Linked DNA regions of Homo sapiens: regions 1, 2, 3 and 5 are each linked to region 4. The links come from fine-mapping of genetic effects on gene expression. A gene starts in region 4. Each other region holds a variant in brackets. All regions are shown on one strand. Distances are from middle to middle.

Region 1 (5,106 bases), 100 kb before region 4:
AGGAGTGTGCCACCACACCCAGCTAATTTTTGTATTTTTAGTAGAGATGGGGTTTCATCATGTTGGCCAGGATGGTCTCGATCCCTTGACCTCATGATCTGCCTGCCTTGGCCTCCCAAAGTACTGGGATTACAGGTGTGAGCCACCGCGCCCAGCCTGTCCATCTGGTTTTATAATGAAAGAATAATAATCATAATAGAGAATGCTTCTATACCTCTTACAGACACTGTTCTAAACACTCATATATAAACTCATTTGCTCCATTGAGGAAGGTACTGTTTTCATTTCCATTTTATAGGTGAGGAAACAAACAGAGAGGTCAATTAACTTGCTCAGGGTCACATAGCTAGTAAGTGGTGGAACTGAATTTCAATTTCAGGTAGTCTTGCTTTGTCATCTGAAGTCATAAAAACTTTGGAGTCATATAAATCTTGGTTTGAATTTAAGTTATGCCCATGATTAGCTATGTGACCTTGGATTAAGTCAGTAAAATGTGGGAATAATATTCACTTTGAAGAACTGCTGTGAAGATAATAAGTATATAAACTTCCTGAGACATAGTAATACCCAAATAATTTATTTCTCCATTGTTAAACAGTTATTTCTAGTTTTTCATGATTATTGATAACACTAATATGAATATATTTTTCCATGTGGTTTTTCCCTTCTTTTGGATTAATCCTTAGGCTAGATCCCCAAAAATGTTATTACTGGGTCAAAGACTATTAGCATCTAATTGGTTAAGTATTACCAAATGTATTTCCAAAGGAGTTTTTCTAATTTGCAATATATGAATTTATCATCTTCTCTACCACCTTGCTAGACTTAATAAATATAAAAGAGAATAAAAGATGAAAACATTTTGCCTACTTACTATGTACTAGGCAATCTGCTAAGTGCTTTGCCGTACGTGATCTCGTTTAATCGTTACAACTACCCCAAGAGGAAAATATTATGTTCATTTTTACCCATGAAATGGAAAAGCCCGGATTTGAAACCAGTCTGTTTTTTTTCAAAGCCTCTTAACCTCTGTACTTAAACTGTATCAGGTAAAAATCATGACTTTTTTTCTGATATAACTAGCATAAAATAGTACTTTATTATGTTAATTTCATTCATTGGATTTCTGAGCCTTAAAATGTTCCATGATTATTTTAAATCTGCATTTCCTTATATACGTTTTCTGTTCATCTACTTTCCACAGTAACAACAGCTAATCCATAGAACTGTGTTCCAGACTCTGTGCTAAAAGTGCTTCACAAATAGAACTTCATTTACCTCCCAAAGAACCTTTTAAAATGGCTATCAATGTCCTACATGGTGTCTCTCCAGCTTCTTATAGCATGCTCATTTTCTTGTCCTTGCCATGCTTCCTCTGCCATAGGGCCTTGCACACATGTTGTTACCTCCGCCTTGAACATTCCTCACACTCCTCTTTACCTAGATAACATTTGGTAATTTTTTTTTTTTTTTTTTGAGACGGAGTCTCGCTCTGTCACCCAGGCTGGAGTGCAGTGGCACGATCTCTGCTCACTGCAACCTCTGCCTCCTGGGTTCAAGTTATTCTCCTGCCTCAGCCTCCTGAATAGCTGGGACTACAGGTGTGTGTCACCATGCCCGGCTAATTTTTTGTGTTTTTAGTAGAGACAAGGTTTCACTGTGTTAGCCAGGATGGTCTCTCGATCTCCCGACCTCGTGATCTGCCCACCTTGGCCTCCCAAAGTGATTATAGGCGTGAGCCACCATGCCTGGCCTTTTTTTTTTTTTTTTTTTGAGACAGGGCCTCACTTGGTCATCTAGGCTGGAGTGCAGTAGTGTGATCATGGCTTACTGCAGCCTCAACCTCTAGGGTTCCCATCTCAGCCTCCCAAAGTGTTGAGATTACAGGTGTGAGCCACCATGCCCGACTAATAATTCTTTAGATCTCAATTTGGTGGTCAATTCTTCAAAGAAAGCTTTCTTTTCTTTTCTTCTTTTCTTTCTTTTTTTTTTTTTCTGGAGACAGGGTCTTGCTCTGTCACCCAGGCTGGAGTGCCGTGGCTTGATCATAGCTCACTGCAGACTTGACTTCCTGGACTCAAGTGATCCTCCAGCCTCAGCCTCCCAAAGTGCTGAGATTACAACCATGAGCCACCACACCTGGCCAGAGAAAGCTTTCTGGACCTCTTTGAATAGATCAAATCTTCTATTGTAAGTTCTTATTAGCACCATTTGTTATTTTTCATAGCACTTACCACAATTTCAGTTTTTTGTTTGTTTGTTTGTTTGTCTGTTTTGAGATGGAGTTTTGCTCTTTTTGCCCAGACCAGAGTGCAATGGTGCGATCTTGGCTCACCGCAAGTGACTCTCCTATCTCAGCCTCCCGAGTAGCTGGGATTGCAGGCAAAGTTGCAGTGAGCCGAGATCGCGCCACTGCACTCTAGCCTGGATGACAGAGTGAGATCCCATGTCAAAAAAAAATATATATATATATATATATATTTATTAAATATAAAGGATTCATTGAATCCTAACAGAAAGAAGATACCTAGTTCTGAAGGCCAGGTTTAGGTGCTAACAGTTTAAACTATACTAGAAATCAGACTGGTACTATTGCAACTTCTGGAGATTCATTAGAAGACCAGAGACATATCAAAGATCTGGCTACATCTTGGTTCTATAAAGGAGACATAGATACATCCTGGTTCTGTGTATATTATAGTAATGATACTAACCAAACAGTTATCAACAAGGTACTTCCTACAGAGCAAGTGCACAAACATCTATGAATTGACACTACTCATTCCTGTGAATCAGCCTATCACTTGAACATATTTATCAGCATTTCTTGACCTTTGTGCACATTAAGGTGCAATTTTTAAAAATGCCACCACCAGAATAAATGTATCACATCACCTCTGAAGCTGATTTCTCTAACACCATCTCCAGCCTCTCACTAGGGACCATCTAGTCCTACATTTTCATTTACTCACAGGACACTTAAAACACATTTCTTGGCTGAGCGCAG[C/T]GGCTCACGCCTGTAATCCCCACACTTTGGGAGGCTGAGGCAGGCGGATCACTTGAGGTCAAGAGTTCAAGACCAGCCTGGCCAACGTGGTAAAACCCTGTCTCTAATAAAAATACAAAAGTTAGCTGGGCATGGTGGCAGGTGCCTGTAATCCCAGCTACTCAGGAGGCTGAGGTGGGAGGATCACTTGAACCTGGGAGGCAGAGGTTGCAGTGAGCCAAGATTGCGCCACTGAACTCTCTGCTGGGTGACAAGGCAAGATTCTGTCTCAAAAACCAACCAACCAACCAACAACACACACATTTCTTGCCATTTTCTCACATTTTATGTATCTAAAGTTGAACCTCTTGGTTTACTCACCCCAATTTAGCTATTGCCTACCCACCTACCCATTTGCCCCACTATTGCACTGGAAACTAACCTCGATAAGTTTGTCAGTCTTGTTGAAGATGATTGCATTGCACGCTCGTACAATTCAGTCTTGTCCTCCATTCCTACTGGTAGTTCTCCTGATTACTGGATTTAGAAGCCTGAGCTCCTAATGCCATTCCTTACCACTTGTACTTCTTCTGTCCTGATGGAGGCTTGGTATAATACTGACCTATATTTGCAAGGCACTGAGGAACTACCTTGCAGAGTTCTCGAGACAGCCAAACTTTGTGTTCTCCCACCTAGCACAGGAGGGCCAAGTTTAATTTTCCTCTCCCTAAAATGTATCTAAAATGCTACGTCTTCTATCCAGTAATGTAGTCCTTCAAGGCAAAGATATCGTGGTCTTGTGCTTTCTTTTACTTTCTGTTCTTTTTTGGGAGTGACTTTATTTTATTTACTAGTCTGTGAGAATAACATGCAAATGACTCAATCCGAATTTCTAGAATCTAATACTCCTTGTTATACTGGCCAGGATCCCCATTCTCCTCTCCTTTCTTGAAACGAAAGGGGTAGTATCATCTACAAACCAAATGAACTTACTATTAGCTTATCAAGCACACACAGAATCTGGTTTCTCACACATTCCACCCTATTTCAGGGCCCACGAGGGATGTTGAGCTCTCTCTTCACTTTATTCTCTTTTTTATTTTTATTTTTATTTTTTTTGAGGCGGAGTCTCACACTGTCACCCAGGCTGGAGTGCAGTGGTGTGATCTCAGCTTACTGCAATCTCTGCCTTCCAGGTTCAAGCGATTCTCCTTGCCTTAGCCTCCTGAATAGCTGGGATTACAGGGGTCTGCCACCATGCCCAGCTAATTTTTTTTGTATTTTTGGTAGAGACGGGGTTTCACTATGCTGGCCAGGCTGGTCTCGAACTCCTGACCTAGTGATCTGCCTGCCTCGGCATCCCAAAGTGCTGGGATTACAGGTGTGAGCCACCGCACCCAGTCTCTTCACTTTATCCTCTTGGCAACTATTCCCCTGACTTCTCTTGATGGTACTTCCTCTAGGGAACTCACACCCCTACCTTGTAGTTGGCAAAGAAATACCTTCACCCTTTAGATCTCATATCTTTTCTTCACAAACTTAAACCCATCCCCATGACCCTGCTTCCTCTTTTATACCCTTTTGCTTTCTACTTTCAGGGTTCCTCCTTTTCTGGTGTAGTTTATTACTTTTTCTGCCCTAATTTTGCCCTAATTTGTTCTTTCTTGGGATATTGGAGCCCGGGAGTCTGGCAGGAAGAGAGGTGGAAGAGAAAAATGAAGCCTGCCGGGCGCGGTGGCTCATGCCTATAATCCCAGCACTTTGGGAGGCCGAGGTGGGGGGATCACTTGAGGTCAGGAGTTCAAGACCAGCCTGGCCAACATGGCGAAACCCTGTCTCTACTAAAAATACAAAAAAAAATTGGCCGGGCGCGGTGGCTCACGACTGTAATCCCACCACTTCGGGAGGCCAAGGCGGGCAGATCACGAGGTCAGGAGTTCCAGACCATCCTGGCCAACATGGTGAAACCCCGTCTCTACCAAAAATACAAAAAATTGGCCAGGCATGGTGGCGGGCGCCTGTAACCCCAGCTACTTTGGAAGCTGAGGCATGAGAATTGCTTGAACCTGGGTGGCAGAGGTTGCAGTGAACCGAGATCATGCCACTGCACTCCAGCCTGG
Region 2 (5,106 bases), 22 kb before region 4:
TTTCCTACAGTTGGTGAATGTTTTTTTGTTTTATCTATTTTTTTCTCTCTTTTTTTTTTTCTTGTCAGCCTTTTCAGGTTGAAAGTTGGTGCATGTTGAATTTGTGGTCATAACTGCTGTTCATTGTTATGCTGTTAATTATTTAAATGTATCACAAACATTTGCATTTATTAAATTTTTAAATGCAAGTGATAGACTGGTAATCAGCAGTTCTTCTTCTCCCCCTCCACCCCTTTTTTTTCTTTTTGCCAGAGTTTGTGGTTGATTACTTCATTTCTAGCCTTAACATACAGAAATTCAACAAATATTTATGACTACATACCAGGCACTTTGTATTACAGATATATAATATTGAATAATACAGATTGTTCTCTTTCACAAAGTTTGTATTCAAACATATTGCTTGATTTCTTTTGTGAGTGGTTTAAATTGGGGGTTGGCAAACTTTTTCTATTAAGGACCAGATAGTATTTTCTGCCCTGTGGCCTAAAATTTATGTAAATAATTCAAACAACCCAATAACAACAACAACGAAATAATCTGATTTAAAAGTGGGCAAAAGACCTAAATAGACATTCTGAAATTTGAAGACATACAACAGGTATATGAAAAAATGTTCAACATAATTCATCATCAGGGAAATGGAAGTCAGAACTACAATTAGATATCACCTCACCCCAGTTCTGGCTGTTAACAAAAAGACAAAAAATAAATGCTGGTGAGGATATGGAAAAAGGAGAACTTTTATACAGTTAATGTCAATCTAAATTAGTACAGACATTATGGTCAACAGTGTGGATGTTCCTTAAAAAATTAAAAATAGAACGACCACATGACCAAGCAATTCCACTTCTTGGTATATGTCCAACTCAAGGAAATTTAATCAGTATGTTGAAGATCTGCATTTCCATGTTTATTGCAGCACTATTCATAACAGCCAGTTTGTTTTTCTTAAAAAATAGTTGTCCTTGACCATTTTTGAAACGTTATTCTTACATCATTTTAATTGCATTACTTCTTAACTCATCCTTTCACAATTTCTTTAGCTAACTCTTCCTCCTGTCTGTCAAATATCTGTTTTCCTTTAAGTGCAGTTCTTGGTTCTGTCTCTTTCTATTCTTTCTCTCAAGTCTTAGTCACTTAAAAAATTATATGTTATAGACAATTTCCAAATCTATGCATCTATTCCTTACCTTTTTTGATCTAGTTATAACTCCAAATCTAACTTACCTAAAATCTGTAAATGTTATGTACTTTCGTTCTTTGAGCTTGAAACCTTATTTTGAGTCATTTTATACCATCAAGGAAATATAGGAGTTGTAAAGGTGGACAATAACATGTGAAAACTTGTGGAGGCAGCAGAAATTATTTAGAATTTGCGAAATGTATATTTAGAATGTGGCAAATGTGGAGAATGTGGCAAATCTTGGTCTGTTATTCCCTTGGAATAATAGATCAGGAGGGGCTTTGTCTTCCTTAAAAAGGATTTTCTAGTTTGATGCTACAGGTAATATGGAGCTACTAAAGGATTTAAAATGGGAAGGTTGAATGATAAGATGTTTTTTCCTAGATTATTTGTAGCAGTATGTAGGATGGCTCTTGGGGATAGGAATCCTGAAGCAAGGATACTGGTTAAGAGGTTTTACAATTAGGTGAGAAATGATAATTTCCTGAATTAAGGCAGTGGTACTGCAGATTTAGTTAGAAGGATAGATTTTGATTTAAGTGATGAGGAAGAGGGATTTATCAATTCCTGATTTAGGACCTGAGAAAATGAATATTATTAACCGGCGAAGTACATACAGAAGGAGAAAAAGAAGGTTTGGGAGGGGAAGGGAACCTTACAAAAAAACGAGCTCTGTTTTGTAGGTATTAAATTTGAGGGTGTCTGTGGGCTGCCCAGGAGGCATTTGTATGTTAAGATCTGAATCTGAGGCAGAGTTTTAAGTTAGAGATGTAGATATGGAATGTAGTAGGGTACAGGTGGTAGTTAAATCTGTAGTATAATTGAAACCACCCACAGATAATATGTGGAATGAAAACTGGGCCAACTCTGCAACAACCACGTTTTGGAGAGGAGGAAGCCTGGAAAGGGAAATCAAGAAAGCAGGTGATTGCAAAGCATTCCTTGAATTTGGTTGTGAAGAGGTCATCAGTGATTTGTTTCAGGGGAGTGGTATGGGCAGAAGCCTGATTGCAATGATATGAGATGTGAATAAAAGGTGAGGTGAGGCAATAGAGACAGGTACTACAGACTAGTATTACAGAAGTAGGATTCTTATGTGAAAAAGGTATATATATCTTGGTGCTTTTGATGGCAAGTTGCAGGATAGTCAATTTTAAAATGGGCTTAAATGATGAAAGAGATTTATTGGCCTATGGAATGGAAAAGTCCAGAGGTGGGATGGATAGTTTGAATGTTTCAGGCCTGGGGTTTGCAGGCAGGGCTGGTGGAAGGACTGGGATAGAGGATGAGAGTGTGTTTATGAGAGAGGGATAAACCTTGAGGTTTAGACTAGATATGGAAGCAGCTGAAAGAAGGAGGGGACTGATACTGAGAAAAAAACGTAGGTCACAGAAAGCTAGAGGTCTAATTTCATGTAAGTAAAGGAATGAAAACAGGA[A/C]GGTTGTGGTTTACTAATAAGGGCTTTCTCTAGCTAGGCTAAGTTAGCTACAGTTATCCAAATAGGCTTTATACATTGCAGCTTTCAAAATCCAGTCCTAGTATTTTGTAGCATAGTTGTTTACTTGATGGCTCTTCTGCCAGGAAATAAAAATTGAACATTGTTAATTCTTTGTCACTCATGGATACAACATTGGTACTCACACAAAGGTGTGAACCTGAAGATCCTCGTAAGATGAGAAGCTTTTCTTTGTGTATATATGAAAATAAACATGTTGGTCTTGGCGAAATTATGAGGTCGCTATATTTTGTGGTCATACCCTTTCTTTGTCTTCTGTTGCTCCCGCCTTCCTCTTTTTTAGGTTTACTTTTTATTCTCTTTGCAAATAGGAAAAGATGCTTCATATTTATTCATGTCACATGTTGATTATTCTAGGTGTTTACCTTTCTAAGTTGTCTTCAAGTTCAGTGCTGTTGAGTTTAGTGGTGTTTGAATTAGGTAAACTTGGAGTGGTGTGATATAAGAATATTAATTCAGTCTCACTTTGTGTGTAAAATTTAAAGTAGTATGAATTCCTTCAAATTAATAATGCATTGAGTTGTATAATCTCAGGCCAAGTAAATTGAAAACTGCCACATGGCAGTGTACTTCTTTAGGATTGGTCTTGAGTTTTGGCTGCTTTAAATTAGGATAGGTCTTAAGAGTCACTTCTGGCTGGGAAAAAGATTTTAAAAAGATCATGATAGGTCTTTAGGACATTTGTCCCATAAAATGCCTGTATAGAGAGAAAGCCTTTCTTAGTAAAGGAATTTCTGAGACTGGGAATAGTTGGGAGAGGTGTTTGGGGGAGACTGATATTTCTTTTTTTTTTTTTGAGACGGAGTCTTGCCCTGTCGCCCAGGCTGGAGTGCAGTGGCACGATCTTGGCTCACTGCAAACTCCGCCTCCCATGTTCAAGCAGTTCTCTGCCTCAGCCTCCCGAGTATCTGGGACTACAGGCATGCACCACCGTGCCTGGCTAATTTTTGTATTTTTAGTAGAGACGGGATTTCACCATCTCGGCCAGGCTGGTCTTGAGCTCCTGACATCATGATACACCTGCTTTGGCCTCCCAAAGTGCTGGGATTACAGGCATGCACCACCGTGCCTGGCCGAGACTGATAATTTCTTATTACCCCTAAAAGCATATGATTCCTAGAAATGTTGCTGAAGGTTAAATCTACTTTAGTTGTTTTAGAGTGCTTAGAAAGGTTAGAATAATGATTTAAAAAGACTTACCTTTCTTCCCCTTCCTTATCTCTATATCCCATGATGAGCCTTTGTTCCATGCTGCCACCCCTGGCTTTTTATGGCATGATGATCATACCAAACTTATGGAAAGTAATTCATATGAATATATATAAAGTAATTCTGGCCTGGGTGGCTGCTGCTTAAGAATCATCTAAAGTGATCTTGGGGGGAGGATTTGTAAGGAATTAAAAAATCCCTACCCCTGCTATTTGAGAACAAGATCTACAGCCTTTTTTTCTGTGTATATATGTGTGGGTGATGTTAAATTGTCTATGGAAAAAAATTGATTCTAAAAATGCTGCTAAAGAACAAATGGTGAAGAATTGTGGTAAGATATCCTAGATGGTCATTTATGTAGACTGTTTCCTATTAAGGCAAAATAGGTGGTATTTAAAACATGACAGTAGATTCTTTAAATTTTTTTTAATGTTCATTAAAGAGCCATTTTATATAAAGGTACAGCTATATGTTAGGCTTTTAAATTTAATCTGCATTTTAACAGAGGTAGAAAATGCTAGGTAACTGATCTGAAGTGGAAATTCTGGTTAAATACAGCATTTCTAGTCTAGTCCATTGCTATGTACAGGATCCATCTCTCTATCCTTGAGAAACTCTAAATTGGAGATTACATAAGATAAGAACATACATGAAATGACTAGAGGAATAGTATCAGATTGTATGGAATTAATGATAGATTCCATTCAGATGCTAGATAGGATGCTCTGGGCTGCATATTTATGTAGGATATGTCCTAAATTCACTGGAGAGTTGATATAGAGAAAATATATGTTGCTCATAGGTAACATTAGACTTCAGAGAAGGGAGAGATCATGGAGTGTGACCAGAAAGACTTCTGGAAAAAAAGAGCTTTTGAACTGCTCTTTGAAAGATGGATACGATTTGGGTTGACAGAAAAGAGGACATTCCAGATTGGGCAGATTCAAGAGAAAAATCACTGGAGGTAGAAATAAGTTTGTCATAAGTTGAGTAGAGAAAAAGATTGGGGCCAGGCTTGGTGGCTCACACCTGTACTCCTAAAACTTTGGGAGGCCAAGGCGGGTGGATCACTTGAGGTCAGGAGTTCAAGACCAGCCTGGCCAACGTGTTGAAACCCCATCTCTACTAAAAAAATACAAAAATTAGCCAGGCATGGTGGCGCACACCTGTAATTCCAGCTACTTGGGAGGCTGAG
Region 3 (5,106 bases), 140 kb after region 4:
AATAACTCTTTCACACTTAAATTTCTTCATAATTATATCATAATTAAATGAATAATTATAACATAGGTTCAACTGGCATTTATGATTTGGGAACATTCACTACTGACTCTTGGAATGCATACAACTCTCTGAGAGAAAGCAGGAAGCCTGGGGAGACTAGCCGCTAGGAGATTAGCCAAACTATTCAACACGCTATGGGCGATAGTATGTTTTACAGAAGAAAAAGAGCACTATTCTTCTGGCAAGCCAGTTAAGTGGAGTTGGTTAAGAAAGGAAATGCTGTAAAAAAGATGTTTAGGACCTCGAATAGGTCTAATTCAGAAGCAATGGAAATCATATTCTAACACTTCCATAGTACAAATATATTTCAGCATATGCTACAGTTTTCCACTTTAATTAAAGAAGTGAGGCCGGGTGCAGTGGCTCACGCCTGGAATCTCAGCACTTTAGGAGGCCAAGGCAGGCAGATCACGAGGTCAAGAGATAGAGACCATCCTGGCCAACATGGTGAAACCCCATCTCTACTAAAAATACAAAAATAAGCTGGGCGTGGTGGTGCATGCCTGTAATCCCAGCTACTCAGGAAGCTGAGGTAGGAGACTCACTTGAACCCAGGAGGCGGAGGTTGCAGTGAGCCGAGATCATGCCATTGCACTCCAGCTTGGGCGACAAGAGTGAAACTCCACGGCAAAAAAAATAAAAAATAAAAATAAAGAGGTGATATGAGTGAACACCAACAATTAAATACCAAATCATGAGAATTTCAGAACATGATTGTTTTTAGGTAGACTGAATATTACAAAATGTACATATAAATAGTCACACAAGTTGAACATTTACTTTGCCTTTTTATTTCTTTATTTATTTTTTTTTTGGAGACAGGCACTCATTCTGTCACCCAGGCTGGAATGCAGTGGTCCAATCACAGCTCACTGCAGCCTCAACCTCTCAGGCTCAAACGATATTCCCACCTCAGCCTCCTGAGTAGCTGTGACCACAGGTGTGTGCCACCATGCCCAGCTAATTAAAAAAAATTTTTTTTTTTTGTAGAGATGGGGTCTTACTATGTTGTCCACGCTGGAGCTTTGCCATTTGTAAACATTAAGAGTGGTGGTAGAGAAATGGGCAGCAGGGACTAAAATAAAAATTTAAAAATTAAAAAAACACTTTCAAAAAAAGGAATGTTAGCTTTCTCCATGTCACTCAGGCTACTACTACATATCAGTTCCACAACAGACGTAGTTACTTATTAAATAGTTTAAGAGCTCTAAATATGGTAAGTGCCACTGGACATTGTTTGGGTTCTGATTTCACTGACACTCAAGTATGCTTCTGCTTCATAATATGCGGGGGATACACTGTCCACTGAGTTAACTGTTTAACTCTGTGAAAATAAAAATCCTAGGAACTACTTTAAAAAATTTATTTAGGTACTGATATTTTACATATTCTTTTGAAAAACAACTAAAAATTGACACTCAGAAAAGAATAAACCTGTTCAGAAAGAACCTTGGCTCACTTTCACTTTAAAGTCATTGGCTAGAATGACTCACTTTGCCACCCAGGCATTAGAACATAAAAAGTAGTAATTTGTATTTATACCCTTTGTAATGTGTGGGAGAGGAGAGTAGACGTATGCAAATGAGTAATCCTTTTCCTAAAAATTTGACAAAAGAATATAAGATTTACTGAAGGAAGTTATTGTCTTCATTATCTTAGACTATCTAGACTAAAATGCCACTCAAAAAAAATCAAAAAATAAAAAAGTGAAAATACTGTCCTTTTCATTTAATTACTTATACCTACACTATTATTAAGACACAACAAATTTTGTTTTCCAAATAACTAGCTGTGGGAAATAAGAGAGGAGAATATTACAGATTATCAGAAAGAAACAAAGCAAACAAGAATGATTAAATATTAGTACACAATTTGACACATTTTCTGTATTAAAATTTTATGTCTAATATCTGGATTTAAAAATTTATCTCAACAAAATATTCTTTCATAAAGAGTTTTAGATGGCTGGGCATGGTAGCTCACGCCTGGGATCCCAGCACTTTGGGAGGCCGAGGCGGGTGGATCACTTGAGGTCAGGAGTTTAAGACCAGCCTGGCCAACATGGTGAAACCCCATCTCTACTAAAAATACAAAATTAGGTGGGTGTGGTGGCGCATGCCTATAATCTCAGCTACTGGGGGGCTGAGGTACGAGAATCACTTGAACCTGGGAGGCAGAAGGCGGAGGTTGCAGTGAGCCAAGATCGTGCTGCTGCACTCTAGCCTGGGCAAGAGTAAAACTCCGTCTCAAAAAAAAAAAAAAAAAA[G/AG]TTTTAGTTGTGAAAGCAAGTATATATTTTGACTTTGTCATCTAGGTGCATCAAGACATTTAATGCTTATCACCCTGATCTAATCACTATATATTACGTGTACTGAAACATCACTACGTACCCCCAAAATGTGTATAATTATATGTTAATTTTAAAAAGACATGTAATGCAATATAATCAAGACCGCATTTCTAAATATATAAGCATATTTATAGCTTATGCATATTTATATTTATGCATATTATAAGCATATTACATTTTTGGAAAAATTTTATTTTAAAAAATAACTTCATCCATTTCAGAATCCCATCCTCTAAAATAAATACAAAGAAAAACTACCACTGCAGTTGGTGTTACTACTACAAGGCTCCTGCCAAGAGCAATCATCGTGCCATCTGGTTTGACAAACTAAGAGAGCCAAAGAGTAGCCATTCAAGTAACAGCTTTTTATCTCCATCAGTAAACTCACTGCAGATTACTATGGTCGAGATTCAAAACCTAACTAATCTGGGAATCAAGCCACACTCCACAGCTCAGCTGACTCCATACTAATGTGCATCTTGAGTACAGTCTGCTCCTTCTTAGTCTAATACAAAACCCTCCTGTAAAATGAGCTCATTCTGGGAATAATCATACAAAATCATGTCGCTGCTGCTGTTGCTTCTAATTCAGGCTATTTCATGTACCTCCCTGACAACTAGGAGCAGGTCGCTTCAGGATTTGCCCTAAAGTTGCTTTAATATTATATCTTTGCATAATGGGGACCAGATCATTCAGCTCAAGGTTTTATAACAGGCAAATGACTTTCACCTTTTGACCATGTATTCAAATTCACTTGGAATGGATAATAAAGAGAATGAGAATCATTATCTCAGAAATGTTCAGCAGTGTCAATGGCAAATAGCTGATTAGAGCCCAATTTAAATAGACTAAACTTTGAGGGGAAGAAAAAAATCCTGCAAAACCTTTTCAGTCGGCCCCCAAATACTCCTTTGATGTGAAAAATGGTTGTTTCTTCCTTTAACAAAATAAGTCTTAGGAAAAAATAATAATAAAAGAGCTGCTGTATACTTTTTACATCACAGTATCAGTAAGACATTAAGTAACACAATGGAAACAAAATTAGCATAGCTTTCAAAGGAACCAAGATATTGAAATTCTAAAGTTATATACTTAAGTGTCAATCTAATTGAGTCATTTCCTTAGGAGACACATTTAATTTTAAGAAGTCATTCCAAAAATCCCTCTAACCACAGTGACTCAAGTAACAACCTGCACAATAGAATAAAGACTACAGTTGCAACAGGAGTCAGAGATACTTACTTTAGGGATAACTACCAGGAAATGGCATTGGTTTATGCCTATAAGTGTTGAAACATTAAGAAACAATTATAAAATTAAAGATGATTGTGTTTGTTACTTTTTCAGGTAATAATAACATTTTGTCTTTGCTACCTAGGCAGCAGGTTTAACTCCTAGTCTCCAGGTAAATAGTAATGTTTCTGATAGAAGTATTTGCCTGCTGCTAGACGCTTGAGGTCAAATTCAGTGTTTAGCATCTGGAAAGAAAGCAATCCCAATGGTCATAACATTGTAGCAATTAGATAAAGAAAAGAGAAGGCAAAATTAGACATTGATATTAGCTTAATTTCTCTGGCTAACATAGGCAGGTGTCTGGCACTCCTCTCCAATATATATTTATGTTTAAATTTAACCATAGCAGCTGCCTAAGAAGCAACTTTCACCCCTAAAAAGAATACTAAGTTTTCCTTGAATAACTCCTTAAAAGAGAGCACACCTTTAGGTGTATGCTTCAAAACTTCAGATAATTATGTTATAATGCCCTAAAGATCTTCCACTGCTTTCAGAAGGATACAGTGGTAGTGTTGGAAATGACCTTGATAATTCATCTAGTCTGTTGCCCTCATTTCAGTTTTCTATCAACTGACTTTCTCTTTAGAGGCTGTAGTAGTAACAATACCATCTCTAGCTATTAATTGTCTAGGCAACTTCCCCCTTATTCTCTATATTTAGAAATTCAAAGCCAACTTCCAGGAAGCCCAAGGTCAATGAAGCAAATGCTCACTGCCCCTACCTTTTCATTCCCCTAGTTGAAAAACTCAACAGCTGGATCACAGAAGCATAAAGTGCTGTATCCAGTATTCTCTAAAGCTATATGCTGAAAGGAAAATATTTGGGAGAATATTAACTGAGGTAACAAACTTACTCAACATAGTATGTCCCATACTGAGGGTCCTCTATTTTCTCCCAGCCATAAGGAAGCTCTGTAAATAAAGAAAATTGAGTGAAATGCCAGATTCAAAACTGACAGAAAAGAATTCACCAGTGAGTGAATTTATTATTTCATTATACTAATATTTGGGTGTCAGAAAGCTGAGGGCTCACTTTCAAGGAACAAACACAATTTAAGTCTGAGTGGCTTCTTCACCAGCCAGTGAGAATTTCAGCAAGCAATCAGAAGCCCAGAACAGAAGATGGCATTAAACAAAAAGGTGTTCATATGAACCACAAGCCATAAAAATGCTAATAAAAATTACTGTGTACTTCTTTCATTTAAAAACCTTGATCATGCTGACACAAGACATATTTACCCTTGTAGTCCAATAGAAGAAGCAGGTATCTGTTCAATTTTTTACTATTATACATAGTCATTTTTGATGTTATGTTCAGACCCACTTCTCCTCAAAGGAAACCCTAGCCTTGGACTTTTGTCATTTCAAGTGAGCAATCTAGATTTGCTTAAAACCTACAAAAGTACC
Region 4 (5,106 bases):
TTAGAGGACGAATCCCTCACCTACTGTATCCCCTACTACTTCAAAAAAAATTTTTAGAAAATCTTATGACTTCTTTCCTAAAGATGTCTGGGGAAAATTCCATCCATATTGAGATGCAATTAGTTTGGGGGAAGAAGAAAAAATACACTTGACATTTGTTGTAGTTAATGCCTCTTAATTGCTTAAATTGGTGTGTATCTACTTAAAAGAGGACAGTCTTAAATTTTTATTCTGGTGATGTGGATTTTCTTGAAAGTGCATTGAGTATTAATGAAGATGGCGTATAGACTTTTATGTCATTGATGTATTAATGTGACACAACAAAATGGATTTCTTTCCTCATCAGTTTTTGTGTGAAGTTATCTTTAATTGAGGTACCTGTCCTAAGCACTGATAGCCTTTGGTTCTGTCTAGGAAAGGAAAAGAAAGGGACTTCACATTTTTTGAGTAACTGCCATGGGCCAGGCAGTTTATATGAGGGTTTCTCATTTAATCCTCACATCCTTAAGAAGGTGACTATCTCCATAATACAGGTGAGAAAACAGGCTTGTTAGTTGAATAAATTGCTTAAGATCACAGATTATTGGTTGGGAGCAAGGATTCAGACCTTGTTCGCTGGTAGCCGCAGGAAGCACTGAATAGTTTCCAACAGGGCACCTGAAAAATGGTTTACTACTTACCACTATTCTCTAATACTTCTTACCTGATTCAGTTCCTCCAGACACTCCCTGAAAATCTGTGTGCCAAACAGTGAAGTAAAGTACTTTTGCTATTAATGTAATTGAGGTTAAATATTTACGTGTGCAAAATTCGACGTTTTTCACTTGTCATTTATCTCTTTTTTCAAGTTGGCCATTTGTCTTGAAGCTCAACAGAATTGTAATGTTTAGCACTAAGGAAAGGAAAAGCTGTCAAGGAGCAAAAGCAGAAGGAAACCACTGCCAATGTGTGCAATATAAAAATAAGGGTAAAATAATTTTTACTTTATTTGAGACAGGTCTCTGTTGCCTAGGCCGAAGTGCAGTGGTGCAATCATAGCTCACTACAGCCTCGAACTCGTGGACTCAGACGATCCTCCTGCCTCAGTCTTCGAAGTAGCTGGGACTACAGGTGCGCGCCACCACCCCCGGCTAATTTTTTTTTTTTAAGAGACGGGGTCTGGCCATGTTGCTAAGGCTGGTCTCAAACTCCTGTGCTCAAGCTACATTTCCGCCTCAGGCCTCCCAAAGCGCCCAGATTGCAGGCGTGAGCCACTGCGCCCAGGCTGGGTGAAGTAATTTGTAAAACTTAGTCCTGTGGGAGTTATTTTAGCTTAGTCGATTTTCCTCATCCGTGAAATGGGATAACTTCCACCTGGTGCCCACTCAATAGATAAGAAGAAATAATGTCTGCAAAACATTGAGTACAGCGCCTCTTAGGCTTTCTTAAGTGAAGCTATCATCTGTCATTAGCTTTCTCTGACCCAGATGCTACACGCTGTGGGCTAGCAAGAACACGGCTTCAAATAAGGTGGGGAGAATGGCTGTAAGGGGACAGTGTTCCATTAATGGCCAAAAAAAAAAAAAAAAAAAAAGCAGCCTAAAAATCCTTTTAACGTATCCTTAAATATTCACTTGAGGGTTCAACCTTTCTTTCCTTTCTCCTGACCTCTATCGGCCCTAATTAACCTGTTCCTGCCGCCACCTAACTTTACCCTAATTTGGAAAAAGCTGTGACTGCCCAATACTTGTTCCTCTTTTCCCCCTACACCTTTGAGCACTAGAAAGCTCCAGACCCAGAGCTGCTGAGGGGCGGGAGAGGAAGGGAGTCACTAAGCCGCAGCCTGGCCCTTCCTCCCAGGGCAGCGTAAATTCACGCAAACATTGATTCGTTCGCTCAACAAACATTGGGAACCTAAGTGCCAGGCTTGTGCCAGGCCCCAGTCTCTGACCTCATGGAGCCCACAGCCCACTGGGGAACAGAGATTAAGCCATGAAACACGAAAATGAGTGCCACAAAGACGTGAGCTACTAGAGTATCAGGACCGACCTCCTTTAGACCGCTGGATGGGAGAGTCGTTTGTGAGGAAGTGACTTTTAAGCTGAGGCCTGAAGGGTGATCTGAGGGAGCTGCTCTTGGCCATCGATATGCCGCGCGACTCCCCAGGCCCTCGGACCCGGAGCCTGGACCAAGGCTGGGCGGGAAGGCCCCGGGCCAGGGGCGGAGCCACCTCGGCGGCGAAAGCCGGAAAGCGGAAGCCGAAGGCTGCTGCCCGGTGGTCGGCTGAGCGGCTCTAGCCCAGATCTCAGACGGCTGAGTCACTGCATCCCGGCGCGGCCCGCAGAAGACGAGCGCCGCTGCCGCCGCCTCCTCCTCCCGGGCTCCCGGGCTCTCGGGGTCCGGGGCCTTTGCACCTGTCTTTTCCAGCTGGGCACAAAGCCTTTTGCTGTCGCCGTGGCGACTGGAGGCCTTCACTTTTAATCCCCCTCATTTTCCAGTTCATTCTCTGCTTATTTTCTGGTCAGTCCGTGACCCTGTAGGCGGCCTCTGACCGGCGATCGATTTGCCGCCCTCAGGGCGCTGGGCGGCCGGCTGCCTCCGAAGCTGGGGCGGCCTCCGCGGTCTCCATGGTAACGGCCTCTCCGGCGTCTCCGCCTGGAGGGGAAGATGCGGCCTGCCTGGCCCGCCGCCTCGCCCCCGGCCTCACGGTGGGACCCCGGGCACTGAGGACGGAGGTCCCGGGCGCCGGCCCGCGGGGCAACGGGCACTAGGTGAGAGCCGGACGCGGGCGAGCGAAGGAGGCGGGTGCCGGGCGACTCCAGCGGCGGCCCCTGCCCCTCCCCCGCACCCACGAACACGCTCGCCCGATATATTGCAGAGGCTTCTCCGGTCGCCGCTGCGCCAGTTTTTTTTTGTTTGTTTGTTGTGTTTTCCCTGGCAAACAGCTGGAGAAAGAGCAGCTCATGGAGAGGCTGAGAGAAGCGGTTTTCGCGTCCTACCCAAACTGGGAGAGTAACCTTCAGCAGCTGGACTCACCGATTGGTTTTCCTTCATTTTCAGTGAAATCCCATTCTCTGGCTGGAGACACAGATGGCCTCAAATGAGAGAGATGCTATATCGTGGTACCAAAAGAAGGTAATACATATATATATTTTTTTTATTTGTAAAGCATTCTTCCTGCAAAAAGCTCCCACAAATAATATAATGTTACTTTCCCCCGAGTTTAGTAGTGCCAGGTGTTCATGTATACTTCAACATAAATGAAAAAAAAAAAAAAAAGATGTACAAGGTCATTATGTCTTTTAAACCCGGTTCCAGGTCCCAGAATAAGGTTTACAAGCCACCTCCTTCAGGCTGCATACACAATGCCACCGCAATGCTTTGAAAGTTTGCTTCTGATCAAACTGCTTAAAAACAAAAAAGACATGAAACCTGTATGTGCACAGCTCAGATTGATACTATCAACAATCTTATTGAGCTGTTCCTTATCTTTTATTCCTCTCTAGTTTTTCTAGTGCTCTTTTCCTTAAGAAGTGGATTTTTTTTTTTTTTTTTTTTTTTTGAGACGGAGTTTCGCTCTTGTTGCCCAGGCTGGAGGGCGATGGCGCGACCTCGGCTCACTGCAAGCTCCGCCTCCCGGGCTCAGCCTCTGGAGTAGCTGGGATCACAGGCGCCCACCACCACGCCCGGCTAATTTTTTGTATTTTTAGTAGGGACGGGGTTTCACCATGTTGGTCAGGCTGGTCTCAAACTACAGGCGTGAGCCACCATGCCCGCCCAAGAAGTGGAAATATCTTTTAAGGTAATATTAATTTGAAATATTTTGGGCATTGCTTTTGAACTTACTTTTAGGTCCAGCTATTTTAGATTTTTGAAGGAAACAGTCCTTCGAAGTATTGATTTATTCTAACTTTTGAGAAGCATATTTTCCACATAGCATATTGATACTTAATAGGCTCATGACTTTTATGAGGCTTGACTTAATAATGTAAGGATTTCCTTTGCATCGTTTAACTAATAGACTACTCCCTCTTTCAGATTGGAGCCTACGATCAGCAGATATGGGAAAAGTCAATCGAACAGACTCAGATTAAGGTAAATTGATTTCTTTGATTCCGCCTATGTTTCACTGCATTAATATGAAGAGTGGAATTGTACTTACCTGGTAAACTCTGCATTTAACTACCAGTATGGCATTCTTTAATCTTTGAAGGTTATAAGAAAAGCAGTGCAAGCATAATGAGAAGTGACACTTGATTTTTGGCCTCACTATCAGGAAAACAGAAAGGAGTGAGTTGTTCTATGATGAATTAGAGAGCAAATGTCCCATATAAATAGGGCTGGGGTTACTTAGCTCTGGCTAGTTTTTACCACTTGGCAGTGCAGGTCCAAATATTGCCAGAGTTTCAGATTTTTCAAGAGAAGCTGGAAATACACATTTTTATATGAAATATATTGTGCATTTTGTGTCGGATTTTTAAGAGACTCTTCCTTCTCTTCCTCCTCCTCCTTTGCAAGCCAAATAAAATCCATTTGTGGCCTGAATCCAGCCTATGGTCCCCCATTTTATTCAATCACTGGCTTAGAGTATGTGTTTTTGTTTGTTTTTTTGTTTTGTTTTGTTTTTGAGACAGAGTCTCACTCTGTCGTCCAGGCTGGAGTGCAGTGGCGTGATCTTGGCCCACTGCAAGCTCCGCCTCCTGGGTTCACGCCATTTTCCTGCCTCAACCTCCAGAGTAGCTGGGACTACAGGCGCCCACCACCACGCCCGGCTAATTTTTTGTATTTTTAGTAGAGACGGGGTTTCACTGTGTTAGCCAGGATGGTCTCGATCTCCTGACCTTGTGATCTGCTCACCTCCGACTCCCAAAGTGCTGGGATTACAGGCGTGAGCCACCGCGCCCGGCCTAGAGTATGGTTTTAAGTTTTTCAGGTTCTTAAACTTTTTTCTACACAGCTCTTAGAACTGAGAGGATTCTTATTTTATACTAACCAAGTGACCAAAAACTGTTATATAATTCAGAATGCCAGTTTATTAACTTATAATAGGGGAGGAGAGGGTTAAATTATCTTCTGATATTCCAAAGTCAGAGTTGTGGGGTTAAGCCATTTGGGGATGCTGGTACA
Region 5 (5,106 bases), 38 kb after region 4:
TTTAAGACTTTCTCTCATTCTGTGAGTTGTATTTTCACTTGGTTGATTGTTTCCTTTGCTATATAGATGCTTTTTAACTTGATGTGATCTCATTTGTCCATTTTGCTTTGGTTGCCTGTGCTTGTGGAGTATTACTTAAGAAATCTTTGCCCAGACCAACATCTGGAGAGTTTCCCTAATGTTTTCTTTTAGTCATTTCATAGTTTGGGGTCCTAGGTTTAGTTCTTTAATTAACTTTTATTTGATTTTTGCATATGGTGAGAGATAAGGGTCTAGTTTCATTCTTCTGCATGTGAATATTCAGTTTTTCCAGCATCATTTATTGAAGAGACTGTCCTTTCTCTAATGTATGTTCTTGGCATCTTTGTCAAAACTGAGTTCACTGTTGGCCGGGCACAGTGGCTCATGCCTGTAATCCCAGCACTTTGGGAGGCTGAGGCGGGGGGATCATTTGAGGTCAGGAGTTCAAGACCAGCCTGGCCAACATGGCCAAACCTTGTCTCTACTAAAAATACAAGAATTATCCGGGCGTGGTGGTGGGCACCTGTAATCCCAGCTGCTCGGGAGGTGGAAGCAGGAGAATTGCTTGAACCTGGGAGGCAGAGGTTGCAGCGAGTCAGGATCTCACCACTTTACTCCAGCCTAGGTGACAGAGTGTGACCCTGTCTCAAAAAAAAAAAAAAAAAATGAGTTCACTGTAGATGTATGGATCTATTTCCGGATTCTCAATTCTGTTCCATTGGCCGATGTGTTTTTATGCCACTACCATGCTCCTTTGGTTACTATAGTGCTGTAGTACAATTTGAAGTCAGGTAATGTGATTCCTTCAGTTTTGTTGTTTTTACTTACGATAGCTTTGGTTATTTTGGGTCTTTTGTGATTCCATATAATTTTTATTTTTATTTATTTATTTATTTATTTATTTATTTATTTATTTATTTATTTGAGATGGAGTCTTCCTCTGTCATCCAGGCTGGAGTGCAATGGCGCGATCTCGGCTCACTGCAACCTCTGCCTCCCAGGTTCAAGCAATTCTGCCTCAGCCTCCCGAGTAGCTGGGATTACAGGCGCCTGCCACCACGCCTGGCTAATTTTTTTTTTTTTTTGTATTTTTAGTAGAGATGGGGTTTCACCATGTTGGCCAGGCTGGTCTCAAACTCCTGACCTCAGGTGATCTGCCCACCTTGGCCTTCCAAAGTGCTGGGATTACAGGTGTGAGCCACCATGCCTGGCCAATTCCATGTAAATTTTAGGATTGTTTTTTCTATTTTTGTGAAGAATGTCATTGTTATTTTTATAGGGATTGCATTGAATCTGTAGATTGCTTTGGTTAATATGGATATTTTTAACAATAGTCATTCTTCCAGTTCATAAACTATGGAATATCTTTCCATATTTTTTGCATTCTCTTCAATTTCTTTTTTTTGAGACAGAGTCTCGCTCTATCGCCAAAGCTAGAGTGCAGTGGCATGATCTCGGCTCACTGCAAGCTCCACCTCCTGGGTTCATGCCATTCTCCTGCCTCAGCCTCCAGAGGAGCTGGGACTACAGGCACCCGCCACCGTGCCCGGCTAATTTTTTGTATTTTTAGTAGAGATGGGGTTTCACCATGGTCTCGATCTCCTGACCTCGTGATCCGCCCGTCTTGGTTTCCCAAAGTGGTGGGATTACAGGCGTGACCCACTGCGCCCGGCTGCGTTCTCTTCAATTTCTTACATCTATGTTTTATAGTTTTCATTATAGAGATCTTTCACTTCTTTGGTTAATTGCTAGGTGTTTAATTTTATTTGAAACTATTAGAAATCGTGTAACTTTCTTGATTTCTTTTTTAGATTGTTTGCTGTTGGCATATAGAAATGCTATTGATTTTTGGCTGGGCGCAGTGGCTCACGCCTGTAATCCCAGCACTTTGGGAGGCCAAGGCGGGCGGATCACGAGGTCAGGAGGTTGAGACCATCCTGGTTAACATGGTGAAACCCTGTCTCTACTAAAAATACAAAAAAAAAAATTAGCCGGGCGTGGTGGCGGGCACCTGTAGTCCCAGCTACTTGGGAGGCTGAGACAGCAGAATGGCATGAATCCGGGAGGTGGAGCTTGCAGTGAGCCAAGATCACACCACTGCACTCCAGCCTGGGCGACAGAGCAAGACTCTGTCTCAAAAAAAAGAAATGCTATTGATTTTTATGTCAATTTTGTATCCTGCAACTTTAATGAATTTGTTTATCAGTTCTGATAGTTTTTTGGTGGAATCTGTAGGTTTTTCCAAATATAAGATCTTATTATCTGTAAACAAAGGTAATTTGAATTCTTCTTTTCCAATTTGTAGGCCTTTCATTTCTGTCTCTTGTCTGATTGCTCTAGCTAGGACTTCTAGTACTATGTTGAATAACAGTGATGAAAGTGGGCATCTTTGTCATTTTCCAGATCTTAGAGGAAAGGCTTTCAGTTTTTCCTCATTCAGTATGATACCAGCTGTGGGTCTGTTATGTGACTTGACTTTTATTGTTTTGAGGTATGTTCCTTCTATACCCTGATTTTTGAGAATTCTTATCATGCAGGGATATTGAATGTTATCAAATGCTTTTTCATCATCATTTGAAATGATTATATGGTTTTTTTCCTTCATTCTTTTGGTATGATGTGTCACGTTAATTGATTTGTATGTATGTTGAACCATCCTTGCATCCCTGGTATAACCCTACTTGGTCGTGATGAATGATCTTTTTATTTATTTATTTTATCTTATTGTTACTA[A/G]TATTTGAGACAGAGCCTCAGTCTGTTGCCCAGGCTTGAGTGCAGTGGCATGATCTTGGCTCACTGCAAACTCTGCTTCCCAGTTCAAGTGATTCTTGTGTGTGAGTCCCCCATGTAGCTGGGACCACAGGCATGTGCCACCACATCCCTCCCTCCCTAATTTTTTGTATTTTTTTGTAGAGGTGCACAGAAGTCAAGTATTGAGATTTGAGAACCTCTGCCTAGATTTCACAGGTTGTATGGAAATGCTTGGATGTCCAGGCAGATGTTTGCTGCCGGGGCAGGGCACTCATGGTGAACCTTTGCTAGGGCAGTGTGGAAGGGAAATGTGGGGTGGGCACCCGCACATAGAGTTCTCACTGGGGCACTTCCTAGTGGAGCTGTGAGAAGAGGGCCACTGTCCTCAAGACCCCAGAATGGTAGATCCACCAATAGCTTGCATTGTGCACCTGGAAAAGCCGTAGACACTCAACACCAGCCCATGAAAGCAGCCAGGAGGGAGGCTGTACCCTCCCGGTGATACTTGATATCATTTTAATTTTCTGGAATGTTTTAAGACTTGTTTTTTGGCTATAATATGGTATATCCCTGAAAATGATTCATGCACTGAGGAGAAAAATGTGTATTCTATAGCCAGTAGGTAAAATGTTTAGTAAATGTCTGTCAGGTCTGTTTGGTCTGTAGTGTAGATTAAGTCCAATTTTTTTTGTTGGTTTTTCTATTTGGATGATCTGTCTAATGCTGAAAATGAGGTTGAAGTCTCCAGCTATTATTGTATTGGAGTCTGTCTCTCTCTTTAACTCTAATAATATTTGCTTTATGTATCTGGGTGCTTCAGTGTTGGGTGCATATATATTTACAATTGTTTGTCCTCTTGCTGCATTGACCCCTTTATCATTATATAATGACCTTTAACTCTTTTTATAGTTAAAGTCTATTTTGACCAATATAAGTATAGCTACTTGATATGGTTTGGCTGTGTCCCCACCCAAATATCAACTTGAATTGTATCTCCCAGAATTCCCACGTATTGCAGGAGGGAGCCAGGGGGAGGTAATTGAATCATGGGGCTGGTCTTTCCTGTGCTAGTCTCGTGATAGTGAATAAGTCTCACAAGATCTGATGGGTTTATCAGGAGTTTCTGCTTTTGCTTCTTCTTTCTCTTGCCGCCACCATCTAAGAAGTGCCTTTCACCTCCTGCTGTGATTCTGAAGCCTCCCCAGCCTTGTGGAACTGTAAGTCCAATTAAACCTCTTCTTCTTCTCAGTCTCAGGTATGTCTTTATCAACAGCATGAAAATGAACTAATACAGTAAATTGGTACCAGTAGAGTGGGGTGTTGCTGAAAAGATACCTGAAAATATGGAAACAACTTTGGAACTGGGTAACAGGCAGAGGTTGGAACAGTTTGGAGCGCTCAGAAGAAGACAGGAAAATGTGGGAAGTTTGGAACCTCCTAGAGATTTGTTGAATGGCTTTGACAGCAATGCTGATAGTGATATGAACAATAAGGTCTAGGCTGAGGTGGTAACAGATGGAGATGAGGAACTTGTTGGGAACTGAAGCAAAGGTGACTCTTGTTATGTTTTAGCAAAGAGACTGGTGGCATTTTGCCCCTCCCTTAGAGATTTGTGGAACTTTGAACTTAAGAGAGATGATTTAGGGTATCTGGCGGAAAAAATTTCTAAGTAGCAAAGCATTAAAGAGGTGATTTGGGTGTGGTTAAAGGCAATCAGTTTTATAAGGGAAGCAGAGCATAAAAGTTTGGAAAATTTGTGCCCTGACTATGCGATAGAAAAGAAAAACCCAGGCCAGGCGTGGTGGCTCACGCCTGTAATCCCAGCACTTTGGGAGGCTGAGGTGGGTGGATCACCTGAGGTCAGTAGTTTAAGACCAATCTGGCCAACATGGTGAAACCCCATCTCTACTAAAAAAATACAAAAATTAACCAGGCATGATGGTGGGTACTTGTAATCCCAGCTACCTGGGAGGCTGAGGCAGGGGAATTGCTTGAACCCAAGAGGTGGCATTTGCAGTGAGCTGAGATCACGCCACTGCACTCCAGCCTGGGTGACAGAACGAGACTCTGTCTCAAAAGAAAAAAAAAAAGAAGAAAAGAAAAACCCATTTTCTGGGGAGAAATTCAAACTGGCTGCAGAAATTTGCATAAGTAGCAAGGAGCCTAACATTAATACCCAAGCAATGGGGAAAATGTTTCCAGGACATGTCAGACACTTTCATGGCAGCCCCTCCCTTCACAGGCCTGGAGGCCTAGGAGGAAAAAGTGGTTTCGTGGGCCGGACCCAGGGTCCCCATGCTGTGTGCAGCCTTGGGACTTGGTGTCCCATGTCCC

Direction of the effects. Alleles are on the strand shown, and positions count from the first base shown. SD is a standard deviation of normalised expression in the study named. Not every link is listed here.
With allele AG in place of G in region 3, the expression in NK cells of the gene that starts at base 2,287 in region 4 is higher (moderate effect, 0.54 SD a copy in Gilchrist 2021).

The links.
Region 1: its variant is fine-mapped to the expression of PHTF1 in whole blood (INTERVAL, PIP above 0.99).
Region 2: its variant is fine-mapped to the expression of PHTF1 in whole blood (INTERVAL, PIP above 0.99).
Region 3: its variant is fine-mapped to the expression of PHTF1 in NK cells (Gilchrist 2021, PIP 0.90).
Region 5: its variant is fine-mapped to the expression of PHTF1 in whole blood (TOPMed, PIP 0.96).

The regions. Positions count from the first base shown.
Region 1 is chr1:113,861,282-113,866,387 of GRCh38, reverse strand. The region is part of intron 1 of PTPN22 (protein tyrosine phosphatase non-receptor type 22); the gene reads left to right. The region is part of intron 3 of AP4B1-AS1 (AP4B1 antisense RNA 1); the gene reads right to left. Among named protein-coding and RNA genes, the nearest start is that of PTPN22, 7.9 kb to the left of the region's middle. The variant C/T (reference allele first, on the strand shown) is at 3,008.
Region 2 is chr1:113,778,412-113,783,517 of GRCh38, reverse strand. All of the region lies in intron 2 of RSBN1 (round spermatid basic protein 1), which reads left to right. Among named protein-coding and RNA genes, the nearest start is that of PHTF1, 21 kb to the right of the region's middle. RefSeq lists a silencer at 2,538-2,647 and an enhancer at 2,758-2,807. The variant A/C (reference allele first, on the strand shown) is at 2,625.
Region 3 is chr1:113,614,106-113,619,211 of GRCh38, reverse strand. MAGI3 (membrane associated guanylate kinase, WW and PDZ domain containing 3) reads right to left here. Exons shown (of 21, transcript NM_001142782.2): 7 at 4,554-4,611. Among named protein-coding and RNA genes, the nearest start is that of PHTF1, 140 kb to the left of the region's middle. The variant G/AG (reference allele first, on the strand shown) is at 2,327.
Region 4 is chr1:113,756,667-113,761,772 of GRCh38, reverse strand. PHTF1 (putative homeodomain transcription factor 1) reads left to right here and starts at 2,287. Exons shown (of 19, transcript NM_001323043.2): 1 at 2,287-2,750; 2 at 3,040-3,114; 3 at 4,018-4,074. The coding sequence starts at 3,070. RefSeq lists enhancers at 1,835-2,414, 4,693-5,106 and silencers at 2,565-2,884, 3,518-3,647.
Region 5 is chr1:113,718,759-113,723,864 of GRCh38, reverse strand. The region is part of intron 7 of PHTF1 (putative homeodomain transcription factor 1); the gene reads left to right. Among named protein-coding and RNA genes, the nearest start is that of PHTF1, 38 kb to the left of the region's middle. The variant A/G (reference allele first, on the strand shown) is at 2,755.